Regions from separate parts of the Homo sapiens genome. Here region 2 is linked to region 1. A link means that fine-mapping ties the variant in region 1 to the expression of a gene that starts in the linked region. Tissue or cell type: sun-exposed skin. Region 1 holds a variant in brackets; the other region holds the start of a gene. All regions are shown on one strand. Distances are between the middles of the regions.

Region 1 (7,939 bases):
GCTGTACCTTGTGCTAGATAGGGAATCATACCCTTCCCAAATTTGCCTGGGAAAAAGCAGAGACTCCAAGCAAGGCGTGAGGTCCCAGGCTGCTGAGCTAAGCCTACTATTCTCATGATCAGGGCAGCTCAGGTTTCTCTGCAGTGGGGAATAGCAAACTCTCTGAAATATCTAATATCAAAACCGTATGCCTTTAAGGTGAATAGTCATGGACACATTCTCCTTTGGGAGAAAAAAGAAAAAAGTTCTACTAAAACTAAAGTCCCAGCTGATTTCCGACACACTCAGCAATGAACAAATTGTTACCAGGCCAGCCTTCCAGGCTAGAGGTTCTGACTTCACTCCCTCAGGACCCTCCTCCCAAGTGGAAACTAACTTATTTTTAAATGTCTGTGTTCCCTGTCAATGCAGGCAGACATTTTAAGGAGACTTTAGACACTATGCATTGTTACATGAATAACCACATCTGCATGCAAAGCAGTAAGAGATACTAACTCCAATAGACCAAATGTGTGCTTTTCCCCATTGCTTTCAACTCCAAGAATCTGAACAAACAGAAAAGGTCATTCTGATCTTTTTTCTTCAAAGATTAACAATAGGAAAACAGGAATAGTATATTTTCTTATGATAAAAGCAGAAGCTTGTTGGCAACTTCTTTTGAATTCTTACTACCAACCACAGTACTGGTGTTAAATTAAAAAATTACTCATGACACTTGTGTCAAAGAACACAATTTCAACAAATTGAGTTTTAAAGATCTAATTGGCTTTTACTAGTGATTCATGAACCAGGCAGCATCCAGTCTACAAAATAGACAGGAGCTCCATTGGAGATGGCAGAACAGTCAGTTTTTGTAAGGTAGCTTGAGCGGGAACAAGGCAACAGCCTAATGCAAAAACTGGATTGGTTAACATCAGGTTACCTCAGGTTACTTTCCTTTATTTTACTACAGGTTACTTTCCTTTACGGGTTAAAGCAGTGGAGACTGCTTTACATGCTGGCTTAGGTGGACTGGGCTTCTTTTGATTGGTTGCTGTGAATCTCTTATTTTTTCAGAAAACTTTCCTGCTTAGGGTTTTGGTTATAATCTCTCCTGATTTCTCCAAAGGTCAGATCTTACAAGTAAACAGCTTAGGTTTCAGTTCGGTGACAGGGAACCTTAGCTTGAGTGACTCCATTTTGGTTGGTCTCTTGGAGCCTGGTACAGGAGCTCAGTCCAATCAATGGCCTACCACACATTTAACACTTGTTAAAGATGGTAATGCAAACTTTATTCAAGGGGCAGGGGACATGGCTACAGGTATAGAAACCACCACAGTGGGGTCTTGCAGTGGGGGAGAGAGGCTGGCTCAACTCTGACTCCAACAAATACATGACAGGTTTTATCACCAAGGAGCAGGTGGGCAGGGGGCAGTGGATAGAAAATTACTAACAGGAAATATCAAGGATAAAGGTTTTCTGGCTAAATCAACTTGATAGGATTATGGCCGAAGGCAGGCCAGGGTGATAAGATATCAAGGAATTCCAAGGGTGGAGAATTTTTTCTAACCTGACTTAGGAGGATTGTTGCTCAAATGGGATTCTATAAGGACACAGGGGGAAGTTCAAGGTCAATCAGAGGACTCAGAGGAGCCTGACTAAAGTTTTGGTCAAGGGAAAGTCTTTGTCACTGGTAATGTAGTAGGTACCCAATAAATAATTGTTGATTCAACAAATCAACATTCTTCCCCAGATCCGCCAGACTAATTACTTCTCACAACAACTTTGTGTGGCAGCACCTATCTATGGCAGTGGTTAAATTCTCCCTCCCTCGGAGCTCATTCTGTATTCTATCAAGTCATTTTCTAACAGAATTCTTTCCATCACTCGTGTACTTTCTTAAGAGTGAGGAAATTAAAACGGGGAGAGAAGGTTCAAGGCCATGAGTCAGTCCAAAGGCAGAGTAGGGAATTCCATTAATAACTTAAAGCACAAATCCACCTTCCTTTGCCATGAGGATGGGTCTGAAAGTGCTGGCTTGTTACTCCAGCTGCAACCCACACATTGCTGTATAGTCATCCCTGTTATCGCAGCTCTTGGGAGTGGGAAACCTACAGAGCAGTGGCGATGACAGTGACTCAGAGAACACATGAGTTCTTGTTGGTTCAAGGACCTCAAGAAATAAAACACTCAAAATCAATGTAATATGTAACACAGTAACCATTTTAACACCCTCCTAATCTCCTAGGGCCAAAGTGGAGAATACCGATATTTGGGATTAGAAAAAGACACTGGATAGCTAATTTTAAGAACAATTCAAGCCCCGTAACTTCACAAGCATTCCTCAATGCTCAGGAAAAGAAAACATGACAAAGAAATATTTTAAGTAGATATTTTCCAGTCCACTAAATTTTCTATTGCAAAATTGAATGTCCTTTTTAAATCTTCCAGTAGCCTTTTAAATATTCGATGACAGGGATGTTGTCTTCAATTTTTTGTTTTTTTGGTATTGCTCCTTGGCAACTAATATAGTTAGTGCCTCCTAAGTTTTTCTGAGTAATTTCTCTAAAAATTAACAGCTATTTTTAAACAGCAATATTCCTCCACTTATGAATTTATTGAATATTTTTTGGCACCTACAGTATGCAAATCACAGAACCAGGCACCATGGCACATGTGTAAGAATAAGACAGCATCTGGTGTGAAAATTAGAAGGGGAGTGCATTCATCATCACCTATCCTAGAAAAGCAGAAACCATTTGTATTTCAAAATAAAAGAAATTTAATATATGGGAATTGATTATACATGTGTTGCAAGAACAAGGAGCCCAGAAATAAACAAGAGCAGGTGCCACTGTCATCCCTAGGCAGGAAAACAGGAGACTGTGCTCCCAGAACCCAAGGGCAGGGACCACCATTAGAGGCTGGAACTGTCAGCTGCAAGGTGGAGTCTCAAAAGAGATACAGCTCCATTGACACAGCTTCCAAAAGCCAGAAGGGAGTGGGAGAAGACCCTGGTTTCTCATGCTAGCACCTGCCATTGTTACCACCCGGTGCGAAACCAGTTGACACAAAAGTCTGGGCAGCTTAGCCCTAAGGTCGGCCCCTGTGATACAGAACAGAGCAGGGAAAGGCCAGGGTTTGAGAGCAAGCAGGCCATACATAGGGAGCTTTGACAACTGTATAACAGCCAAATTCAAATTAGTGCTATCACAGGGAAAGTAAAATAAATATTCAATAAGCTTATAATATTGCCTTAACTGAATTACAAACAACAACAAAAAATAATAATAACCTCATGACATTTGGAAAAAAGATATATCAATTCCACTTAGAATGGCTGATGCTTTATCAAAGAGGCAGCACTCTGGAAATTTGGAGAAAACCAATAGAATTTCAAAAGCTACAGGAGGAATAGGAAGGATTCTACTTGCAAAAGCATCAACACATAGATATTCTGGCATCGTCTGGTGGAACCATATTGAAGATGCACTGAAGTATGATGTTAAGGAATGTAAATTTTTTCTGGTAGATCAGGAGTCACTGAAGATTTAGGACCCAAAATCTTCAGTGACAGAATCACAGCTGTGATTTAAGGATTCATCTGGCAGCAGCATATAAAATCCTTTGGGAATAAAGATGCCAGGTAAAAGGTAATAAAGTCTTGAACCAAGGGGGCATCCACGGAACTACATGGAACGTTCTTGATTTAGTGTTATCCAGTTGGAAGCACTGTGCAAAGAACTAGAAATGGGAGCCCTCCCATGATAGCTTGGAAAAGATGTCTCTGTTGTCTGCATACTTTGGGGCACATATGAAAAGTGATGAGGGTTTAAAGCCTGGCCATGGATAACATTATGCAGAGGGAAAGTCAGAAAAGAAATGTGTTTCATCAAAGGCTTGAGCATAGAAGGAAAGGTGCTTAAGAAGAGAATAGGGGCAGTAGCGGAAGGGGGAAGACCCAGGAGAATATCGCATTTCAGTAGAAAGGGTTTCCAAAAAAAGTGAACAAGCAATTATGTAAAATGCAGCAGAAAAGTCAAGGAGAATGAATATTGAAAAGGGGTGGGAGGACTTTTAACTTTATAGAAAATTTCAGGAAGCATCCAGAACTGAATTTGAAATCAAAACGTCTGGGCTCAAGATACATAAAATAATTTCTCCCTATGTATTACCTCTACTCCCTCATAATTTCACTATACATG[T/C]AGTTCTTTGTGTCCTCTTTGACTATTCTCTTCAGCATAATCTTCCAGTTTCTACATCCACTGCTAATGCTTCCATATTCTTGATATTTAAAAAGCAAGTGCATTGTCATGTCATGATGCCCACAGAAGCCAGAGAGAGTAGGGTCACACCATATATAACTGGGTTACCTAAAGACTTGTCCATTAGCATATATTTAGAAGGGGCTATGGGCATCACAAGCAAAGACTGACTTGTCAAGTTAAAGCTAACATATAACTTCTATAGTTAAATAGCAAAATTTAGCAAGCATTTGGTAATAGGCTCGATTAGCATGGTTTCCATTTTTTTCTAGCAATTGTATACAAAGCACTGAAAAAGAGAAAATGCAAAGAAGAATGTATAGAATAGCACATTTATAGACTAGTGTGTTGGCCTCTTCAGAAATCCAGCATTGTAGAGAAGATATCATCCACAGTACTAAGTTTAAACCACTTAAGCTGAAATTCAAAACCCTACACAATTTGATAACAGCCTACTTCTCTAACATTATCTCTCTCTAGCCATTCAGTCAATAACTCAAATTCCTATAATTCAACAAACAAGCACTTACTCCATTCCAGGCATTGTGCCAATCACTACACTAAGCACCCACAAGCCAGGCTGCTCCCATCTAAAACGTTACTACCCCTACTCCTTTACTGACCAGTCTGTTCTCAGCAGGAAAGCCTTTGCTCTTCTCTGTGCATATTGAAATTCCTCGATTATTGACAGCATACTTGGGAGACAGGAGCAAGGCTGTGCAACCTGACTGCTTTGGATTTAAATCTAGTTCCACCCTTAGGCAGCTGTGTGACCTTGGGCAAGTTACTTAAATGCTTCAATTTCCTCCTCTGTCTTCCTTCGAGGAATGTGATGATTAAACACATATATGAAGCACTTAGAAGAGTGTGTCAAGGTATTTAAAACCATACCAGGAATTTAGCAACTGTTTAATAAATGTTAAAAAGTAGTAGTAGTAGTTGTTGTTGTTGTTGTATTGTGATTCTCAGCTGCAGATGCACCTCCTTCACAATACCCCACACTCATAAATCTAACTCATGGTCCATACTCACATGGTTCTTATCATATGTGTCTTTGCATATGTTTTATATCTGATACATTTTTTTGGAGGCAGGCTATTATGCATTTTTTTTCTTCCCTCAGCACACAGCCACATGCACCACAGTCCCTAATGGTAATAGTAAACTGTGTGAGTGTGTGTGTGTGCGTGTGCATGTGTACATGAATTCAGTGGACCCTAAGGAAAATTCTATGGAAGAGGGACAGTCATGGTTCTTCCATCACCAAGAAACATCAAAGTTTGGGGTCACCAAAATGAAGGAAAGTAGCTATAGCATCTTCTTTGCAATAGGCCTTTAATACTGTGTCTATCCTTCTTACCAGTCTGGATTAGTTTAGATTCATTTCTACTAGAGGGCAGGGAATGAACTAAGTAATTTGTAATTCCACCAGTTCACCCCTTCAGAACACCTCCAGATCATCACAACTCCCAATTTTGCTTTGTTAAATGCAGACCAGCTGGGAACCAGCCCAGGACCCTGTATCCCTGAAGTTAACCCACACTCATATTGCTTGGACCAGCTGGGGCTGGCCTGTTTCTGGTGAGACAAAGAGCCAATAGATGATGGTCTGACATGCCAAGAAGTGATCATAGCTGCTTCAGAGGTCATCAGTAAAGAATGTCAGAAGGAAATGGCCCAAGGCAGTAGAAATGCTTTTGCCCTCTTAGATGGTAGTTTCGCAAGCCAATAGACAAATGACGAGCTGGAGCTGGAAATAGCACAGGACTAGTATTAGTGATAGTACTGGGAAACGGCTTTAGCCTGAGGCTGGACCACATATCTTCCACCCCTTGCTGAGAGGAACCACTGCCTAAAACAGATAAGTTTCCCAACATGACTAACTTGAGTGACTATCTTTTTGCCGCTTTTCCCCTCACGCTGACCAGAAATGAGGCATCAATGAAAGTACACACTTAAGAAAAACCTGCTGTTCTGAGCTGCATCCTCCCTGGGACAAATTCTCTGGGGCAGAAGTAGACACTACCCTCAGTTGAGTGGGCTCACCATTTTCTTCAGCCCCTTCTCAAGCCAGAACCAAGGGAATAGAACCAGCATTCTGTTCACTCCTGAAATCTATGTTAACTCCAGCGCTGGATTATCAATACAAATTAAAGTACAGAATTTGAGGAATTACACATTTTGCTTTAATAAATTGAACTGTGGTGAGATTAGCCCTGCAACATCATTGCATTCACTCATTTTCCTGTCTATATGTCACTGTTTCCCAAGTTTTATTCTACAGAATAGTGCCACGAATTATTAATAGGGAATCCCTGAAAAAAAATAAAAGGTTCCAGGTAAAACAAGTTTGGGAAACATGGTCATATGCTTCCTTGAATGGGAGAGAAAGGAAGAGAATGGCAGCTGCAGTCGAGTCATTGCAGGAGCCCTGGGTTCACCATAGGGTGGGCACCACACACAGGCTAAGACCATCAATGAAATGTGTCGGGAGCCTTGAGGAAGGATGCTTCTTTTTGTGACTTTGGGAGGCCTACAGGAACAACCCCAGCATTCCATATTAAAATGCATGTCCAATGTCATATAAAACCAGTCTAAAAACTCCCACTACATTCTTAAAACTCTTATTTTCTAGAAAATTCCAGAAATATGGATCTCTATTAAAGACAATCTTGAAAGAAGGTTAAAAGTTGCCTGCAAGAGTCCTACAAAGAGCAGGAGCGTACACACTGTGGATGATTCCAGACCACCACCTACCTTCCTGTGGTTCTAACGTATTAGCTCTATAAGCAAGAAGTCAGTCATTAAATCCACAGATTGAGAATGTCCCTTTATTGATTCCAGAAGGGAACCTGAAACACAGGTTAAGTAATAACCTGAAGCATAAAGAATTTATTATCCAGAGCAAGTGCTGACTCTTCTGGATCATATTGGAACGTACTCCCTTCCTGCTCCCTCTTTAATTATCATTTTTAACAAAAATCCAGTAGTTGGCCAAAATTCTCTGCCCAGGCAGGCCCAGAAATGCACTGAGGGGTAGAGGGAGAAGACGACTTTCACCCAAAGGGAACAATGCTCCATCACTCTGCTTCTTCATCACACAGGAATATGATCTAATTTAACATCACAGCTAAAATTCACCTTGATATTTATGTCCCTATCTGGTATCTGTGAGGCTAGGGGAAGGGCAGAGACTTTTAGGCCACAGACAGGAGACTGTTGAGGGGGTTGTAGCCGTAATGTCTGCAGACCTGCATTAATTCACTTTGTTAATTTAACCAGGTAATTGGGCTGTGAGTCCTAAGAGCCAAGTTAGAATTCTGGCTCTGCTACTCATCAGCTGTAACAAAGGGCGATTTCCTTCCCATCTCAGTGCTTCCATTTTCTAATACGTAAAATGAGGTGGTTTGTACTAGATGATCTCGTGGTCTCTTGTGGCTACACTTCTAGCCACTAGACCATGGCTCTATGCAAAGAGGAACCACATCTTTCTTGTTCTGTTGTAAATCTAGCACCAAGTACAATTTCTAGAATATAACAGGCACTGAAATGGGTATTTTTAAGTGTATTAACGCTCAAATAAATAAAATGCTAAGTTCAACCCAAAACATGCAGCTAATTCATATAACGTAAGACAGTGTCCCTCTTTTCCCTCATTTTTGTCTCAGCTTCCTAGATGATACCCCAATTGCCCC
Region 2 (6,469 bases), 850 kb after region 1:
TATCCCCAGCTGTCTCAATGTGTGGGGAGAGGGGTGGCAACGGGGCGGATCGTGCAACCCGGTGCAGCTGAACCTCATGTAGACGAGACTGGAAGTGCAGAAAACTGGCGTTGTGATGGACCTGAGGGATTCCCTAGTCTAGTCTTGTATCCAGTTCTCTGGCCTACCCAACTGACGGTTATTCTTGAATACCTCCAGTGATGGGGGACTCATTACCTCCTTGGTCAGTCTAACTTGACCTTCTGCCTCTCTCAAGGCCCCAAACCCACTGTAGCTCCCAAGGGGTGGGAGGAACCCAGGGTTTCCTAGAGTTATTCTCTATAGGGTGAGGATGGGACTTGGCTAGTCGCCATTCTAGGGTACCTAAGCCTGGATTCAAACCAAATTGAATACCAGTTCATTTCTGGTAATAATCTAACATTCATACTTTATTGTAGTTCTGTTCAAAAGTACTGCTTGGAGCTGTGATTTGGGTATATAAGGCATTTGTAGTCAAAGAAAATAATTCACATATGCATTCATGAATCAGTAAAAATAATTTAGGGTGTCGATTCTAGGTTAGACAATATAATGCTTTCATTCTAGCTTTGGTTCATGGTTCATTTCAAATCCTCAGCAACCAATCTCTGCCACCTCCACGCAGCACATTCTGCTTCTGCAGCCAGCATTCGACCAGTGTACCCATGTCCTTGGGTAACGAATCTGTGGGGGGAGCCATTCTGGTATCACCTGGTCCCCCTCCCACTGCCCCCTCATCCAAGGCCTAGCAGTCAGCTTCCTGGGTGACCACAGGAGGTCAGAGTTTGTCTAAGCGGGTCAGGCCTACAGTATTGTCCACTCAGAGGAAAGAGAAAGAATCCGCGTGGGAAAGACACAAAGAGGAGGAGGAGGAGGCGACAGAGTAAGGGGAGGAGAACAGAAACTAAATATAAATATGTGTTGGGGATGTTGGGGATGGCAGCAGGGTATGGTTAGCTGGCTGGCTCCCACACCACTGTCCCACAGCACAGAGGGCCAGCATCTGCACCTGGCACCATGCTTTCCCTAGGAAAGCCGAGGGCATTGGGCTTGTGGTGCAGCCACACAGGGTACAGACCTGTTTGGGACTGTCAGGTTCCCACGGGTTGCCTGAGCTCTATTAGGTGGGCGCCTTAGAGTAAATTGTGTGAAACCAATACAGCCTATAATGCAAAAGATTGAGCCGTGAGTAGATTGATGCGTCTAAAGAATCAGTGAACAAAAATAAGTGGCCATAGTGACCTCAGTTAATCATTGAAGTCTGAGGTGCCCAACAATGATTTTTAAAATCCCTGCACTGTCCTTGGTCCCCGCTCTGTGACACTGGCAGTCACCCAGCCACCACTTGACGGCAGCCATTTGGAGTCCACATGTACTGAGTTTCCAAGCCAGAACTTCCTCAGCACTCAGCCAGAACACAGCCTTTCTCTGGGGGCCCAAGACAAGGAGAGCAAAGGTCTTCTCACTTCTTTATCTGGGGAAGAGATGAGTGATTCCTGTCCCTTCCCCCAGTATAGAAAACACCCTGTACCCCAAAAGAAACATGGCACAGGGGCAGCCAGGAGTGAGCCCCTTGGAATGGCCATTCTGATCTTAGGCAGGGACTGCTGAGGACAAGCAGAGGATGCCGACTCTGGGACAAAATCACAGGCGGAGGGGCTCCGAAACAGGCCCTAGCCGCTCTGGGGGTGCGGGTCTCCTGCCCTAGGACTCTCAGGCTAGAAAGTCCTCAGGACTCAGGACTGCGCAAGGGCTGACAAGGGAACTGGAATCCCTTAAATCCCGCTTTCCTGCCTGCGCAAGGGGCTACCCCAGCACAGTCTTGGGGCCCTGTCCACATGGGACAGATCATCCAAGGTGACAGGTTTTCCGACTCCCGCGTGGGCTCTCCAGGATGTGTGGGTGGGCACACGCGGCCCGCTCAGGTCCGGGAGAGTCGGCCCGCGGCTCTGGAGCGTGCATCTGCGATGCCAGTGAACGAGGTGATTACACACAGCCGGCGCTCAGCTGATTCTCCAGGTCGGGTCTCCGCGAGGCGGCCACTGGGCCGTGGAGCCGCAGGCAGGTCCCCGCGGCTGTGGCCAGGCCAGGGCCCGGAGGCGAAGGGCGGGCGGGAACTGGGGCCAAGCAGGTGGAGAGAAAGAGTTGAGCAGCACGGCGCCCCTCGGGCAGAGGGGCTCCTGGCCAAGGCCCCAGCGACACTTGGCAACTTCTCCCGCGCTCTGGGTTCGCCGCCGCGTCCTACCTGAGGCCACACCCTGAAATCAAAATCGCGGTCAGGTGAAGCCGGCGCTGCACCAACGTGTAAGCGCGGCCCCTCCTCGGCGTTCCCGCGCCGAGGTCCCTCCCGCGGAGGGCGGGCCCGGCTCCCACGACCTCTTCGAGCGTTCCTGGGCTTCCCGCTCCGCAGGTGGGTTCCCCGGCTGCCCCGGAGGTTCGCGGCGAGAGGACGGGCCTCCCAACACGCGCAGCCCCCTTCCTGGGTGCCCATGCCCCGAAGTTCGGGACCAGCCGGCGCCAGGCGAGGGGCCTTGGGCGCAGGCATCTGGAGCTCCGCGTCCCTGGAGCGGGACCTCCCTCCGCGGGCGCCCGCCCGGCGCGGGGCATTCGCGTCCCCGAGAGGGCGCAGCAGTGGGGCCTGCGAGCTGGGGCCGGGTGGCCGCGCCGGGTCGGAGTGTGGCTGGAGAGGGGCCGCCCCGGAAGCGGTGCTGCGCCCAACGTCCCCTTCTCCCCGTAAGCCCCGCAAGGAGCCTGCCGCCTCTTGCACCTGAGCCAGGAGTTCAGTCGGGAGGCGGGCGCGGAGCGGTTCCCAGCGCCTGGACGTCAGCCAGTCGCAACACCCGCGGGAACACTTGCTACATTTGCCATAATGCATTTCTGATCTGTTTCCGCGCAGGCCTGCGGAGGACTGGCCCAGCAAGGTCCCAGGTCTTCCCTCTCCTCAGCGCCTAAGAGAGAGGCCCAGTGCGGGTGAGGAGTCGCGAGGAAGAGGCGGAAGGCGCCGGAAGGTGAGTGAGCGAGCGGCCCCCGGCCCTAGAGCCTTCTGCACCCATTTTGAAGAGCAGGCAGGGAGGGACAGTGGGCAGGCAGGTGGCCCTCCTGGGCTGGCTCCTTCCTGGTACTGCTAGGCAGCGGAGGTGGTCCCTTCCAGGTGCCGTCTCTCGATCCTTAGTGGGTGCATGTTAAGTCACTTACACCACTTTGCCCCATGGCCCCACGGTAGGCTGGTAGACGTCAAGACCTCAAATGGCCCGCCCTGCCCCCGGGCCCATCTTCAGGTCTGATGCCTGTCCTGGGTGAGGGTGTCACCGCGGCAGAGTGCAGGGAATTCATGCCGGGGAAGAGGTTCCCAAACAGGAAGGGTGGTGGCAGGCCCAGTGGCTGTGCAGGGCAGGGTGGGAGGCAGCCGTGGGAGACTCCCGCAGGAGTTACAGGTGAAGCTGCCGCTCCACACATCCCAGCCCACCGCTCATTCCCCAGATCTCCAGACCTGCTCAGGTGGCATCCGATCTGGAGTGTAGGTGCTGCTGGGAGCACTGGAGGCTAAGCCATGAAGAGCTCCCAGGGTGTAGGTTGCGTTTTCTGTATCTTGCCCCATTCTGGTGGTTTTTTGGGGGCTTTTCTGACTTGTTTTTCTGGGTGAAGGGGGCAGAGGGGCTCAGGTCTGTGTCCATGCTCGTTTTTGGTGGCCGGTGTGGCATAGGTTGCCGCATTGGATAAGAAAACGCCTGGTTCCATGCAAGGTGAGGTTCAGCCTGCAGTGCCATGAATTCTCCTCCATAGTATATAGGACAGTGGCCGAAGACACATTTGGAACCGAAGAGAGTGGGGTTTGAATCTATCCAGACTTTGCCTTTGACTCCTTAGACAAGTTGCTTCACTTCTCTACAAACTTATAAATGGCCTCATCTGTAAAATGGGAATGCGAATGCCTTCCTCCTCATTAGGCGGTTGTGGGGAGTAACTGCCTCATCAGCCTCCAGCTGCTATGTTGGGAAGGGCTAAGCCACTCCAAGTTCTCCCATCCTGGAGAGCTTTGAGGGCAGTCTGGCTGTTTGGCAAGCTATTGTCAGAGGGTATTAGAGCAAAGCAATAGGAATAAAGTAAAGGTAGGGGTCCTTGGAGGGCGAGTAGTGAGAGACCCTAATTCAGGGTCTCTGGACCTCGTGGTGACCCAGGGAAGGGGCCATTCCTGGAAGAGGATCTGGCTTGGGCATCAGAAACAGCAGCGCCCCCTGCACATCACACATGTTCATGTGTTCATGGGTGACCCTGGAACCTCAACTGTTGCCTGGGATAGAGGGAGCCTCTGGCTTGAGCTTCCAGTCCCATCTCTGTTCTGCATAGCTGTGTGATCCAGAGCAGGTCACTTGACTTCTCTGGGCACTGGGCATTGTGGATGAGCCTGGAGTTTGGAGTCGGAGAGATCTGACTTTGAATCCCAGCTCCACACTTACTGTCTTGGACAATTACTTCTCTCTGAGCCTCAGTTTCTTCATCTGTAAAACAGAGCTCGCAGTAGCTACAATTAGCCATTAGATGTACTAATAAAAAGCACCTAGCACAGTCTATCCATGTGGTGGGCACTTTATAAGCATACCTTTCTTTTCTTGCCTCCTCCTTCTCTCTCCAGCTCCCTGCTGTCTTTAAAATGGGCCCAGGAAAGCAGGTTCAGCCCAACTCACAATGGTGTTGTGAGTGTAAAGTTGTGAGTGTTAAGGAGGTGAAATAGAGGTCTGGAAAGTTAAGAGCTGTAGAAAAAAAGGCAATCTTGTGATTAGGGATGCCAGAGGTTCCTTCTGCTTAGCATAGGGTTCCAATGCCAGAGGTTCCAATGCTTAGCATAGGGTCCTAGCTAGGCATTGAGGACCCTATGCTAAGGACTCAGACCTCTGTGTGCAGAGGCTGTTGAGAATCTAGGGTAGGCCGGGCGCGGTGGCTCACGCCTGTTGACACAAGTGACTGAATGAGCTGTATTACTGTATTCTTTTAAACAGCAGCCCATTATCTCTCCCCTGGGGATTCACTGGGGCCAGTGGTATGGGAATAGTGACAAAGGCAGAGAGCCCAAACATTTTGGCAGGTTGCATGTCATGCTGTCTGCCCTGGCCCATGCTGCATCTGTCTGGGTCCCTCAAGTGGGACAGCAGAGCCTCAGGGTCCTGCTCATCCTCCCAGGGCCTCTCCGCACTTCAGCACACTGACCCTGAGCAGGTTGTTTGAATCTTGTGGGCATCCACATGAGGGCCACAACCTGCGTCTAGGACCCTCCTCCCCCGCAGGTGACAGCTGAGCAGAAAAGCAGATGAAATTTCCTTCCCCCGTGTATTTTGGGAGCCAGGATAGGGTGCTGGGGTGCCACCTCTCCTGACTCTCAAGTCACGTGAAGAGGAGCAGATGGCAGACTCGGACCCCAGTAGAGGCTGAGGTGAGACAGAGTTCAGCTCCACACAAGGATCAGCGAGGGGACAGAGGGGACAGAAGGCAGGGGCTGCAGGGGGAGCTTTTCATCGCTGAATGAGTTCTAGCAGAGTGCGGGCAGCCTCCTGTTGGGAATGCCAGAGGGACTGAACTTTGGGCCAAGGGGAAGGTCAGACCCCGTCAGGAGTGCCACAGATCCTGCACTACCATCTCTTCTGGCTGCAGAAGGTTGGCCTAGAGCAACACCTGTTTGGAAGAAGCAAACTAAACCACACAGGAGTGAGGATTTCCTCTCGTTTACCATGGTCCCCAGAGCCTGGAGTAGAGTAGGTCCATAATAGATACTTTCTGAATAAAGGAATACTATAATTTCCCAGCTGGGCACGGTGGTATGCTCCTCTAGTCCTGACCACTCAAGCGACTGAGGTGGGAGGGTGGGTTGAGGCCAGACGTTCGAGGCTGCAGTAAGCTCTGATCGCGCCACTGCATTTCAGCCTGGGCGACTGAGTGAGACTCTGTCTCTAAAAAAAAATTTTTTTTTTGAAACAAACTTCTGAAAGTAAAGTTTGAGAAAAATCCTTCTGGCCAATGAGAATATTCCAGTGAAAGGCTGTCTTCTGTTCGCGGTAATTCTCAGCCAAGGGGTCAGGTGAGGCCTGTCACCTGTCAGAATGTGTGTGGGATGACAGTTCCCAAAGGGGGTTACAAAGAGGTCAAGAAACCCTGCTGCAGGTCTCAGCATGTCAGGGCCCAGCCCTGGAGGTGACAGGGTCCTCTGGAGGCCACTCTGACAGGTTGGTGATGGTAGTAGAGTGCTTTCCTAAGTTTTGTAGCACTCGGGGCTCACCTCTGTCTTGGGGCTGTGATTCTAGGATAGGCCCTTCCCCAGAGTGTCTTGGATGGGCCTGAGAATAACAGAGGGTGGTGGTAGGAGCAGATGGCCACTGCAGCCAAGTTCACATCAGGTCCTGGGTCAGACTCGTGTCTGCCCCTTCTTTGCCTCTCGGCTTGAATGAGTCACTTAGTCTCT

Alleles and levels. Positions count from the first base shown, and alleles are read on the strand shown. Sizes are in standard deviations (SD) of each study's normalised expression.
As copies of C replace T in region 1, the expression in sun-exposed skin of the gene that starts at base 2,696 in region 2 goes down (large effect, 0.84 SD a copy in GTEx).

What was found. PIP is the estimated chance that this variant, and not a neighbour inherited with it, causes the effect.
Region 2: PAK6-AS1 starts here. The variant in region 1 is fine-mapped to the expression of PAK6-AS1 in sun-exposed skin (GTEx, PIP above 0.99).

Annotation. Positions count from the first base shown.
Region 1 is chr15:39,399,007-39,406,945 of GRCh38, forward strand. The region is part of intron 1 of LOC105370777 (a long non-coding RNA gene); the gene reads right to left. Among named protein-coding and RNA genes, the nearest start is that of LINC02915, 150 kb to the left of the region's middle. The variant T/C (reference allele first, on the strand shown) is at 4,185.
Region 2 is chr15:40,250,264-40,256,732 of GRCh38, forward strand. It overlaps PAK6-AS1 (PAK6 antisense RNA 1), which reads right to left and starts at 2,696. Exons shown (of 2, transcript NR_168270.1): 1 at 2,395-2,696; 2 at 401-2,276. BUB1B-PAK6 (BUB1B-PAK6 readthrough) reads left to right here. Exons shown (of 10, transcript NM_001128629.3): 2 at 2,915-3,026. It overlaps PAK6 (p21 (RAC1) activated kinase 6), which reads left to right. Exons shown (of 11, transcript NM_001395430.1): 3 at 2,915-3,026. RefSeq lists a silencer at 2,678-2,767 and enhancers at 6,233-6,282, 6,356-6,469.